Regions from separate parts of the Homo sapiens genome. Here region 2 is linked to region 1. The links come from fine-mapping of genetic effects on gene expression. Tissue or cell type: lung. Region 1 holds a variant in brackets; the other region holds the start of a gene. All regions are shown on one strand. Distances are between the middles of the regions.

Region 1 (5,596 bases):
AAGTCACCCAGTTAGCACCCAGCTAGGAAATACTATTAACAGTGACTATGTCTTGGAGATGGAATTATGAATGATTATTTTTCTGCTTTTTTATCATTCTATAAACAAATAGAAATAAGAACATTTTTGAAAGACTAAAGTGATATAAATTTCATTTCCCATATGTCATGTTATCCTGCAAGTCCCACCTACCTAATCAACAATGTTCATCATTTCAGGTGGAAAGAGAAGTGTTGCTCAGTTTACATGTTCAAACCAGAATTCTAGCCCGCAGAAACAGAAAAGACGTGAAAGCTAACTTGGTTTGTTTTTTAAGGAGAATAACGGGGATTTCTAATATCCCTTCATATATTGTAGATCATAAATCAAGAGAGTCAAGTCTGGCCAACTTGATCAGAATCTTACAAAAAGCCACGGAGTAGACAACAAAAAAGATATGGCATTCCCGCTACCTAGAGAGGAAAGGTGGAAAGCCCTTTGGGCACTGGGAAAACAAGCCCAGAGAGGAGAAAGAAAAAGAGAGAGGGAGAGAGCACATGCAGTCATCAAGGACGTCCTCAATTCTACCCCCCCACATCCCAAACTTAGGGAAAGTGCAATAAAAATACCCCAGATAGTTTGAGGCTATGCCAAAAGCAAAGAGGGGACTTGAATTTCACTTTCCACTTGGAATTTTGATAACTGAATAACTTGCAGGATATATAATTCCATTAGTCAATTGGAAAGGACGGCAGAGTTGAACAATACAAAGGGATAGGGGAGGGGTATGGAAAAGGAGAGCTGCTGAGTCACATTAGGTCATCAGCATCAGTAGGAGCCCAGTGGGGGCTCAGTCATCAGGAAGACATGACGGAGAACTTTCCCAAGTTCTCCATGGAAGAGCAACCATCTTTCATTTCCCTTGACTGGAAAACAGGCCACAAGCTACACAACCCATAAAAGCATCAGTGGTAGATGCAGAAAGAATAGCATCAGACACTCAAAGGTGAGGTAGCATGAGTTGCACATCAGCCAGGGGTCAGTGGGAAGCAGCAGAGGAACAGTCCTCTTGGGATGGAACTCCTACTACCACGAGGTGATGCAAGCTTCTTTCTCTGCCCAGAGACCAATCAGGGAAAGAGAAGAAGGAAGGGAGTGTGATCACAGGGGTATGGCAGGGAGAGGAATCCTCTAAGACTTTCCATTCTACCAACAAAAGAAATGTGGGAGTCATCTGAAAGATACCCGCTTAAACTGTAATAGACTATTGCCTGGGATGGGAACTTTTGCTTTTTCCCCTACCCATCAACAACAGGAACAATATTAAGCCAGACACAGAAAAGTTAGAAAGCTATATATCTGAGTTTTGGTTGATCAATTTTAACTCTATGTGTTTTTCCTAAGAACAGCGACCATGTGTTTAGTACTAAGATGTGCCAGGCACTGGGCTTAAGGCCTTGCATTTATACAACAATCTCCTAAGGCAGGTGCTATCATTATCCTTGGATAAAAGAGCAAACTGTGCTTTAGAAAACTTACGTAAATTTGATCAAGATTAGACAGCAAATAAGTGACAGAGCTAAGATTTGAACACAACGCCAGAATCCTCTCACTCTAACCACTATGTAATACTACCTATATGTTATTATTATACTTATTTTTCAGATGCTTAAAGAGTCCAAATGAGTAGCCCAACCAGCGAGTGGCAGAGCTGGGGTTTAAACCAAAGCAGTCTGGCTCAAATATGTCAGCTGCTATTTCTTAAACAATTTAAGTATTTTAACAAATCTATATATTGAAATTGTAAAATCTTACTGTTGCTTTCAAAACTTATGTTTATAAGGAATATACAGACTATAGATTAGGGTAGTAGTAAATGAAAAATGAAAAGCAAAGAGAATATAAAGTAAGTTTGGCAAGGTTTCCTAAGTAGAAACTTTGTGAATGACAAACGCTAGGAAGTGAAGGAGGAGTAGAATTATTAGTAGCTGGATGCTGGGAGCAGTGGGAGGAACCTAACTGTTGTAATCCAATGATGAGAAATTACAACTAACAATTGGCTGAAAAAAAACTCTGTGGATTGATTGTACATTCGCAGATCTCTCAAGGCAACCACACCTCCTATGGGAACAAAGCTTCTTATGAAATGACACACATACAGAGTAGAGAAGTGTTGGAGAAAGTCTTAGTGCACTCAGATTCAAAATACAGTGGTGGAAGGCATGGGATTGACAGATTAGACAAATGTGATAGTAGTTGATGGCATTATGGGGCTAAGGTGGCCATACAAGACCTTAGTAGTTGCAGCTGTATTAACTAAGGCACCTTGCAGCTGCTTTCAAACAGGGATGAATAACTGAAGAAACATAATTGACTGTTATGCAGGGAGGAAGGGAGAAAGAGGATATGTAAATGTTGAAAATATAGTTAAAACTAATGAAAAATATGCTCTAAATCCCAAATAAAAAATCATGTTAGCATTGCTTTGTCTGTAAAGAGGAAATTGCCTAGGAATTTTTTCTGAAATTCTTTCATGAGTACTCAGGGTAACACTGAGACTGAACAGATAGTTCTAGTTGCTTAACTCAGTTTGTTAAACTGCAGTTTTGACAAGGCCAGTGTCTTGAATGTGGATCCCAGGTCAGCCAACTGCCTTGTTTTGGAGCTAACAGCTGCATTCCTAACCTCAGCCTCAATGCTGAGGAGCCTATACACTGCTGTGTTTTGTATTTGGATTTACAATAAGCTGTGAACTACTTAAGAGCAGGAAATATATTTTTTTCATCTCTGTATCCTCTCAACCTTGCATAGCTACTGACACGGTACAGGCACTCAATAAATGTGTGCGTGCCAGCCACCACTTGCCCAGGAGCACAAAATGAGAGAGGCTTTAATCCATCTTTCATTCTTCAGTTGAAAGGTGGATTAAAGCCTCTCTCAATTTGTGTATGGCTATTCTTAATGGTACCTGTGCTATGTTCCTTCAATGCCGAGGTAGGAGGAAAAGATGGTTGAATCTTTCGCTACAGTTACTTGCAAGTGTATAGGAAGGGTGGTGTATAAACATAGTGGTGTTGAATATTGCTTATGAGGGGTATTTGTTTTACTGAAGAGTGGAAAGGTGAATGAAAAGTACACAACTGAGATGAAGTCCTCAGTTCCCTTTAGAAGGGAGATAGATTTCAAAAATTTGCCAACAGACAGAATTAAATGCCATCAATGAGCATTTGAAAAGGAAACTGAATTACTACATGGGAGATTTCTACACTGCACCAGTAGATTTACTACTTCCCAAAGGTTTTTAAATTACATGTCTTCTAACTTAACTTTAAAATTCAAGTTTAATTTTATGAATTTCCTTAAATATGATCTGTGTTGTTGTTCTTACCAGGTGTCATTCACCTTTTAGATTTGTATTTCTT[A/G]TTTTTAAAATTTCACTTCCTTTTTCACACACACACACAAAATTAAAAGTATCTGCCCTCTTCACATGTTCTAAGGAAAGCGCTATTGTTGCCATTTTAATTTATCTGAGATAGTGTACTGCTCTTTTTAGGCAACAATGCTCTAAATTAAATTATCGTATGTGTTTTAAAACCTTACCAAAATCTGAGATGAGTTCCTTCTCTGTGCTAGGCTTACTTTGAAACCTGTTAAGAAACGAGATAGAAATTTCAGGACAGCAAGACACAAAAGACCAATCAAAGCTCTCTGATCATTCTCCTCAGGCAACACTAAGTATTATTCAAATATTACATCACAGTTTTAAGCCTTCTGTCAAAAGTGGGAAACCTTCACCCCACTGCCCCACACTAAGCTAGGAACTGACCTGGTCCTGAGGGTTAAACACCCAAGTTTTGTGGACACAACAGCACAAGGGTTCTGCCTCCTTTTATTTATCCCCTGGGATAGAAATGACGGGACCTCGACAAATCCAATCATAACTCTGGTATCTTGTTTGAGGCAGGTCCCTCTCCATCCCCTAGTTGAAACATTAAAACAGCAAGCAAGTATAATCTCTAGAGATTTCTCAAAGGAATCTAGCAAATACTGCCTTCCCTTGTTGTAATATAATTTATTTTCCTGAAAAGGAGCATACTGTTCTGAAGTAACTTAAAATTAAAAAGTCACAAATTAATTATCCTATTTTTTGTTACGGTAATTGCAGAAGGATAGGAATAGTGGGCTTCAGGCCCATAAAGGTATTTAATAAGGGTCTCCCACAACAATACAGTGAATACTTTAACCAACGGTCGCTGTATTAATTAGGATACTTTCAGTTGCTAATGACAAAAGCTTAAGTCAATTAGCTTAGGTAAGAAAGGTCATTATCACGTAACTGGTAAATAAGGGATTCAACATAACAGCTAGAATCACCTCTCACACAGTGTCATCAGAGCTCATTGCTCTCCATTTTTCAACTTTGCTTCTGGTTGTGCACCAGCTTCCTTCTTCAGAAAAGCTCTCACATGCAGCAGGAAAGGTGGCTGCTCATGGACCAGATTAACGTCTTTTTAGCTTAGCAAACACAATAGGAAAGAAAGAATTTTCTCCCCAACATTCATTTATCTATCCTAGAAAGAAATCTGTATGGGCCATGTGGCCACCCCTGAGCCAATCACTTGGCCAAGGGATTATAGTTTTCCTTCCATCTTCCTAGCTGTTCCTTTTTAGTATCTACTGCTGGCTCTTCTTCCTCTTCCTTGACCAAAACAGTCTGACATTGCTCTGGCTTCCTTCTGGGTCTTCTTTCCTTCTCCATCTAGAGGCTTTCTTTGGGCAGTGGTATGGTTTGGATGTGTGTCCCCCTCCAAATTTCATGTTGAAATGTGATCCCCAGTGTTGGAGATGAGGCCTAGTGGGAAATGTTTGGGTCATGGGGTTGGACTCCTCACAAATGGCTTGGTGTGCTCCCCACAGTAATGAGTGAGTTATCTATTAGTTCACAGGACAGCTGGTTATTTTAAAAAGCCTGATGTCTCTCTTGCTCCTTCTCTCTCCATGTGACACATCTGCTCCCTCTTCACCTTCCACCATGATTATAAGCTTCCTGACCCCCTCGTCAGAAGCGGATGTCCTCCTATGCTTCTTGTACAGCCTGCAGAACTGTGAGCCAAATAAACCTCTTTTCTTTATAAATTACTCAGGCTTGGGTATTCCTTTATAGCTATGCAAAATGAACTAACACCGTGGGGTCTCATCCATTGCCCTCCAATTGCCATCTCTCAGCTGTCCACTCTCAAATCTACATGCAAACTCCAGCCCTGTCTCCTAAGCTTCAAACTGCTGGATCTAACTGCCTACTAAACATCTCTGCATGGCTGACTCGGTGTCCAAAATATTAACTCCTCCTTCCTATACCTCAATTCCAACTGCTGTTCCTCCCAGTGTTCACCATCTCAGGAAATGACATCACCACCCAGCCCATTACTCAAGTCTGAAACCTGGGAGTCATCCTTGATTCCTTCTTCTCCCTCAGCAACTCCTTTCACATTTAAACAATCACAAGATCCTATTCCACTCCTAAATATTTCTCAAATGCTTAGTGACATAGATGTCCCTTCTCTATATGCCCACTAGTCCAAGCTACCCTTATTCTTTGCCTAACTACTACAGTAGC
Region 2 (5,596 bases), 110 kb before region 1:
CAAGCCATTGCTTTAGAGAGTGCAAGCCATAAGCCTTGGTGGCTTCCACAGGCTATTAAGCCTGCAGGTGCACAGAGTGCAAGAGTTGAGGCTTGAGAGACTCTACTTAGATTTCAGAGGATGTATGGAAAAGCCTATATGTCCAGGCAGAAGTCTGCTGCAGGAGTGGAACCCTCTAGATAACCTCTACTAGGGCAGTGTGGAGGGACAATGTGGGGCTGGAGCCCCCACACAGAGTCCCCACTGGGGCACTGCCTAGTGGAGCTGTGAGAAAAGGGCCACCATCCTCCAGACCCCAGAATGGTAGATACACTGGCAGCTTGCACTCTGCACCTGGAAAAACCAAAGGCACTCAACACAAAGCCACAGGGGCAGAGCTGCCCAGGTCCTTGGGAGCCCACCCCTTGCGTTAGTGTGCCCTGGATGTGAGACATGGGGTCAAAGGAGATTATTTTGGAGCTCTGAAGTTTAGTGACTGCTCTTCTGAGTTTTGAACTTGCATGAAGCCTGTAGCTGCTTTCTTTCTGCCAATTTTTCCCTTTTAGAATGTAAAAGGGAATTTTTTTACATTTACCCAATGCCTATAGTCCCATTGTATCTTGGAAGTAACTAACTTGATTTTGATTTTACAGGCTCATAGGTGGAAGGGACTTACCTTGTCTCAAATGAGACTTTGGACTTCAGACTTTTGAGTTAATGCTGAAATTCACTAAGACTTTGAGGGACTGTTGGGAAGGCATGATTGTATTTTGAAATGTGAGAACAATGATTGTATTTTGAAATGTGAGTGTAGATTAATATATATTCCAAAACAATTGTTATTTATTTTGTGGCTCAAATTGTTGCAACTTTGGTCATCAGGAGCTCTTTCAGGTTAGCTTCTGGGCCATTTTGACATGTACCTCCATTTTTTAAAAGGCATTTCCTAGCACCCCGAGATGCTCCAGGCTCATTTCATATCCCCTGACAAAGTGATGGAATCAACCAGCCACTTCTCCAAGAAATTCTGGCTCCCTTTACTGGAGAATTAAGAAACCAAGGTCTAGGCACTAGGTGTCATTGCTTCTAGGGCTTCTCTATGGACAGAGCTTGAAAATATACATCTGTGTGCATGAACCCATGTATGCATAAAAATGCATATTTATCCATCAAAAAACTGAGTGCATACTGATTATTCTAATTCCAACTGAATATCACAAGGTTAATTTTAATATACCCATTACATTTTCTTGTTTATAGTTTCTTTCTCCGAAAATATTTTCTATCTGATTCTTTACAGAAAAAGTTTGTCCACCCCTGGTTAATATCATTCAGATTTCAGATCACTGTTCATATATTTGAATTTAAGAATATATTGACAGTTTGCTATGTTCCACTTCTTTTTTTCCTCCTTTTCCTTCTATTGGGCTAATCAAACATTTTTTATTATTTCATTTAATCTTCATTGTTGATTTATTATGTATACCACTTTTTAAAAGAAATATTTAGTGGTTATACCAGGGTTACAATATTTTTCTTAATTAATCAGAGTCTATCCTTCAAGTAATATTATCCCAATTCACACATGGTATAAAGACTTCAAGATAGTTTTTCCAACTTCCTAGTTTTCATTCTTTGTGCTTATGTTGTTATACATATACACTATAAACACACAGTGTTAGAGATCAAAATGAAAGGAATCTTGGATTCAGCCCTGTTTCAAAGCTCATCAGATGACCTGCACAAATCATTCAAACTTTCTTTTGTACTCTTGGTTCTTTAAGTCAAGCATATCTATTGTGCCTACCTCATAAACAGACTCCAGGTTAACATTAGATTTCAAAATCTATGTGACCAAACCAAATTAAAATCTATAAATCTATATGTCTCAGAGTAGACTGTGAACTTGGGTGGTTGCTGGCATCAGTCCTCTAAGGAACAGCCAAACCAAACCCACTGCAAATACTTTTTTCTTATTATAGGCTCCTCAGTGAAAAATTTAACAATCCTACACCCAGTTTTATAATGTTAAAACAGCTTTTCCAAAGGTCATCAAGTAAAGACATAAAGAAGTATTGTTAAGGTGAATTTGGTAGAACAGGATCAAAGATGTTGGAAGAATTTCAAGATCTGAAACAAGTAGACCAGTTGTGAAACTGGTCTTGATTCCATCTTTTTAAAAACATAAGACTGGAAAGATTGATGGGCATGCTTAAATAAGATGGAAAGATGATGGGCATGCCCTCCTGTGTAGGGCAGCAGTAATCAACCCATGGACGGAGCCACAGGGCCAGCAGCTACTGCTTCCTGTGGGCACTGGTGCAGCTGTCTGGGTGCCTGCTCTTTCCAGCACTGTTTTCATCAGATCAAGAATACAAATCCCAGATGGATTCAAACCCATGACTACAAGCTGTCACTCTGTTAGTCTCAGATGCAATTAATATTATTGTCTTCCCTATGTTATATTTGAAGTTCTTTTAGTTCAATTCAGCAAATTGTATTGAAACCTACTATGTATGAGATAATACGCACTTGAATCCTGCCAACTGGGTCTTGATGATAACGCTAGATGGAAACTAGAAAGTTTGACTTTCTGTTGATGATTACTCTCAATCATTCAAACTTGTGGCTCTTTTTCTCATCAGTTATTTATTGTAACTATAATATTTATCAAATTGTATTAACTAAATACAATTATTTATCAAACACTCTTTTTCTCATCAGTTATTTATTGTAACTAGAATTAGACTTATAAAACTTCAGGAATTTGAAATCATATAACCTACTATGCAGAGCACTTCATTTCTCCTTCCTACCTCTGCTTGAGCTAATAACTACAGTTTGTGATCCAGGCCCCTCCTTAAGGTGGAGCTGACGTGGCTGACACTTCTGTCTTAGCTGAAACAAGCAGAAGGTTGTGAATCCATGCTAAAGGTAAACAAACTGCAACTTATATCTGCAATTTATTTTGGTATAGACAAGAGGTATGCCAGTAGCACACTGGTGGCTTCAGAAGAAATTCTCAACACCTAGCTCGCCAGAGAGTCTATGTATGGGATTGAACAATCTGTAAACTAAAGGTATGAAAAAATTTGTAAAATTGGGAAGGTGAGGGAAAGGTGTGACATTTATTTTTGGGTGCAGAAACATCTAATGCCCATGTATAAACTAGGGATCTGGGGTGAAAGGTGCTTCTAGGGGAGGGTAAATTTTGAGGGATGGAAAGTTTTAGAAAGGCAGCATTCAAGCAATCTGATGTTAAAGTTTAAAGTTCCAAGTTAAAAGAGAACTTGGAATTCCGGTGCAAAGAGAAATGTTAAGATGAATCATGGAAAAATACTGATAAAGCCTGAAATTTTTTTAAGTAAGAAATGTTTTAAAATAATTCTTTTCAAGCTTGAGGGGGTGCTAGAAAGCCTGCTAAAACAGAAAAGGAGGACATATTAATAGATTGGCATTAATGAAACAGAAAAACTAATTTGCATTCAACAGGCACTGTAATGATGTGGTTCTCAGTGTTAATATTTGCTGGAGTATTTTGTGTCTGCCCTTGAGTTTAAGGGAATAGAACAGGGAACCTGATAGGTGACAAATAGTCTGGAGACTTCATCTAGACACGAGCAAGCTTGCATCCTTCAGGCCCTTAAGCTGCTCGATTTCTTAAAGATCACAGTGGGCTCCATGAATTATCTGTTCTGTAGAATGTACAAGCAGATAGCTAAAAGAGAGCACCTGGGAGATACCAAGTACAGCTTGCGGGGGTGAAGGTTTATTTCTGGGAGTTATTTATCTGAGGCTAAAAAGTAATCATGAGCCAAAAAAATTTCAAATGTTTCCCATGTTTGTTTGCTTTTCTGTTTTGTTGTATGTTTTTGTGCTTGTTTTTGTATTGTCTCTTGTAGGATCCTAATCATGAAAATAAGTATGATAAATTATAAGTCACTATTGGCACTGTTGTTTATATTAGCCTCCTGGATCATTTTTACAGTTTTCCAGAACTCCACAAAGGTAGGAAATGCTTTATTTATGTGGTTTACAGAAGCTTATTTTTGCTTATTACCTCATCTGTTCTAGGAAAGGCTAAACTACAAGACTTGTAGATTATAGGAGGGGAGTTTGAATAGCTAGATACCAAACAACATACCTGATAATCATTAAGCAATATGTGAGAGGATAAATACTGTGTGTGTGTTCACACATACACATTCTTTCTTTGTCACAAATAAATGCATTGCACCTATCTTCTTCAATGCTTAGCTCATCTTTTTACTTTCTTTAAGGGAACATCTGAAGAACAGAATATCTATATTTTTGGTTTTCATTTGTTTGTTTTTAATTTTTAATTTTTGTGGGTACAAAGTAGGTGTATGTATTTATGGGGTAGATGAGATATTTTGATACAAGCATATAATACATAGTAATCATATCAGGGTAAATGGGGTATTCATTGCCTCAAGAATTTATCCTTTCTTGTGCTACAAACAAGACAATTATACTCTTTTAGCTATTTTTAAATGTAAAATAAATTATTGGTGATTGTAGTTACCCTGTTATACTATCAAATGCTAGATCTTATTCATTCTGTCTAATCATATTTTTGTACTCATTAACTAACCCCACTTCTCCTCCATGCCCCCACCACCCTTCCCAGCCTCTGGTAGCCATCATTCTACTCTCTAACTCCATGACTTCAATTATTTTAAGTATTAACTTCCACAAATAAAAACGAACATGCAAAGTTTGTCTTCTGTGCCTAGCTTATTTCACTTAACATAATGACCTTCAGTTCCATCCATGTTGTTGCAAATGACAGAATCTTGTTCTTTTTATAACTGAATACTACTCCGTTGTGTATATATACCATATTTTCTTTATGTATTTGTCTGTTGATGGACACTTAGGTTGCTTACAAATCTTGGCTATTGTTATCAGTGCTGCAATAAACATGGGAGTTCAGATAGCTCTTGGATATACTGATTTCCTTTATTTTGGGTATATACCTAGCAGTGGGATTGCTGGATCATATGGTAGCCTATTTTTAGTTTTTTGAGAAACCTCCAAACTGTTCTCTATAGTGGTTGTACTAATTACATTCCCACCAACAGTGTACAAGTGTTCCCTTTTCTCCACATCCTCACTAGCATATGTTACTATCTGTCTTTTGGATAAAAGCCATTTTAACAGGAGTGAGATTATATTACACTGTAGTTTTGATTTGTGTTTCTCTGATGATCAATGATGTTGAGCACCTTTTCATATACTTGTTTGCCATTTGCATATCTTCTAGTAAGTGTCTATTCAGATCTTTTGCCCAATTTTTAATTGGATTGTTAAATATTTTTGCTATAGAGTTGGTTGAGTTCCTTGAATACTCTGGATAGTAATCCCCTGTCAGATGGATAGTTTGCAAACATTTTCTCCCATTCTGTAGGTTAACTCTTCACTCACTTGATTGCTTCCTTTGCTGTGAAGAAGTTTTTAGTTTTATATAATCCCATTTGTCTATCTTTGCTTTTCTTCTCTGTGCATTTGAGGTCTTATCCAAAAATCCTCTGGCTACATCAGTGTCCTGAACAGTATTCCCTAGGTTTTCTTCTAGTATTTTCATACTTTGGGT

The links. PIP is the estimated chance that this variant, and not a neighbour inherited with it, causes the effect. A credible set is the group of variants that fine-mapping cannot tell apart.
Region 2: it holds the start of NXPE4, and the variant in region 1 is the best candidate, but not a certain one, in a credible set for the expression of NXPE4 in lung (TOPMed, PIP 0.75).

Annotation. Positions count from the first base shown.
Region 1 is chr11:114,479,333-114,484,928 of GRCh38, reverse strand. It overlaps a transcript of NXPE2 not described here. Among named protein-coding and RNA genes, the nearest start is that of REXO2, 43 kb to the right of the region's middle. The variant A/G (reference allele first, on the strand shown) is at 3,402.
Region 2 is chr11:114,593,055-114,598,650 of GRCh38, reverse strand. NXPE4 (neurexophilin and PC-esterase domain family member 4) reads left to right here and starts at 2,865. Exons shown (of 6, transcript NM_001077639.2): 1 at 2,865-3,059; 2 at 3,882-3,987. The coding sequence starts at 3,892. It also overlaps a transcript of NXPE2 not described here.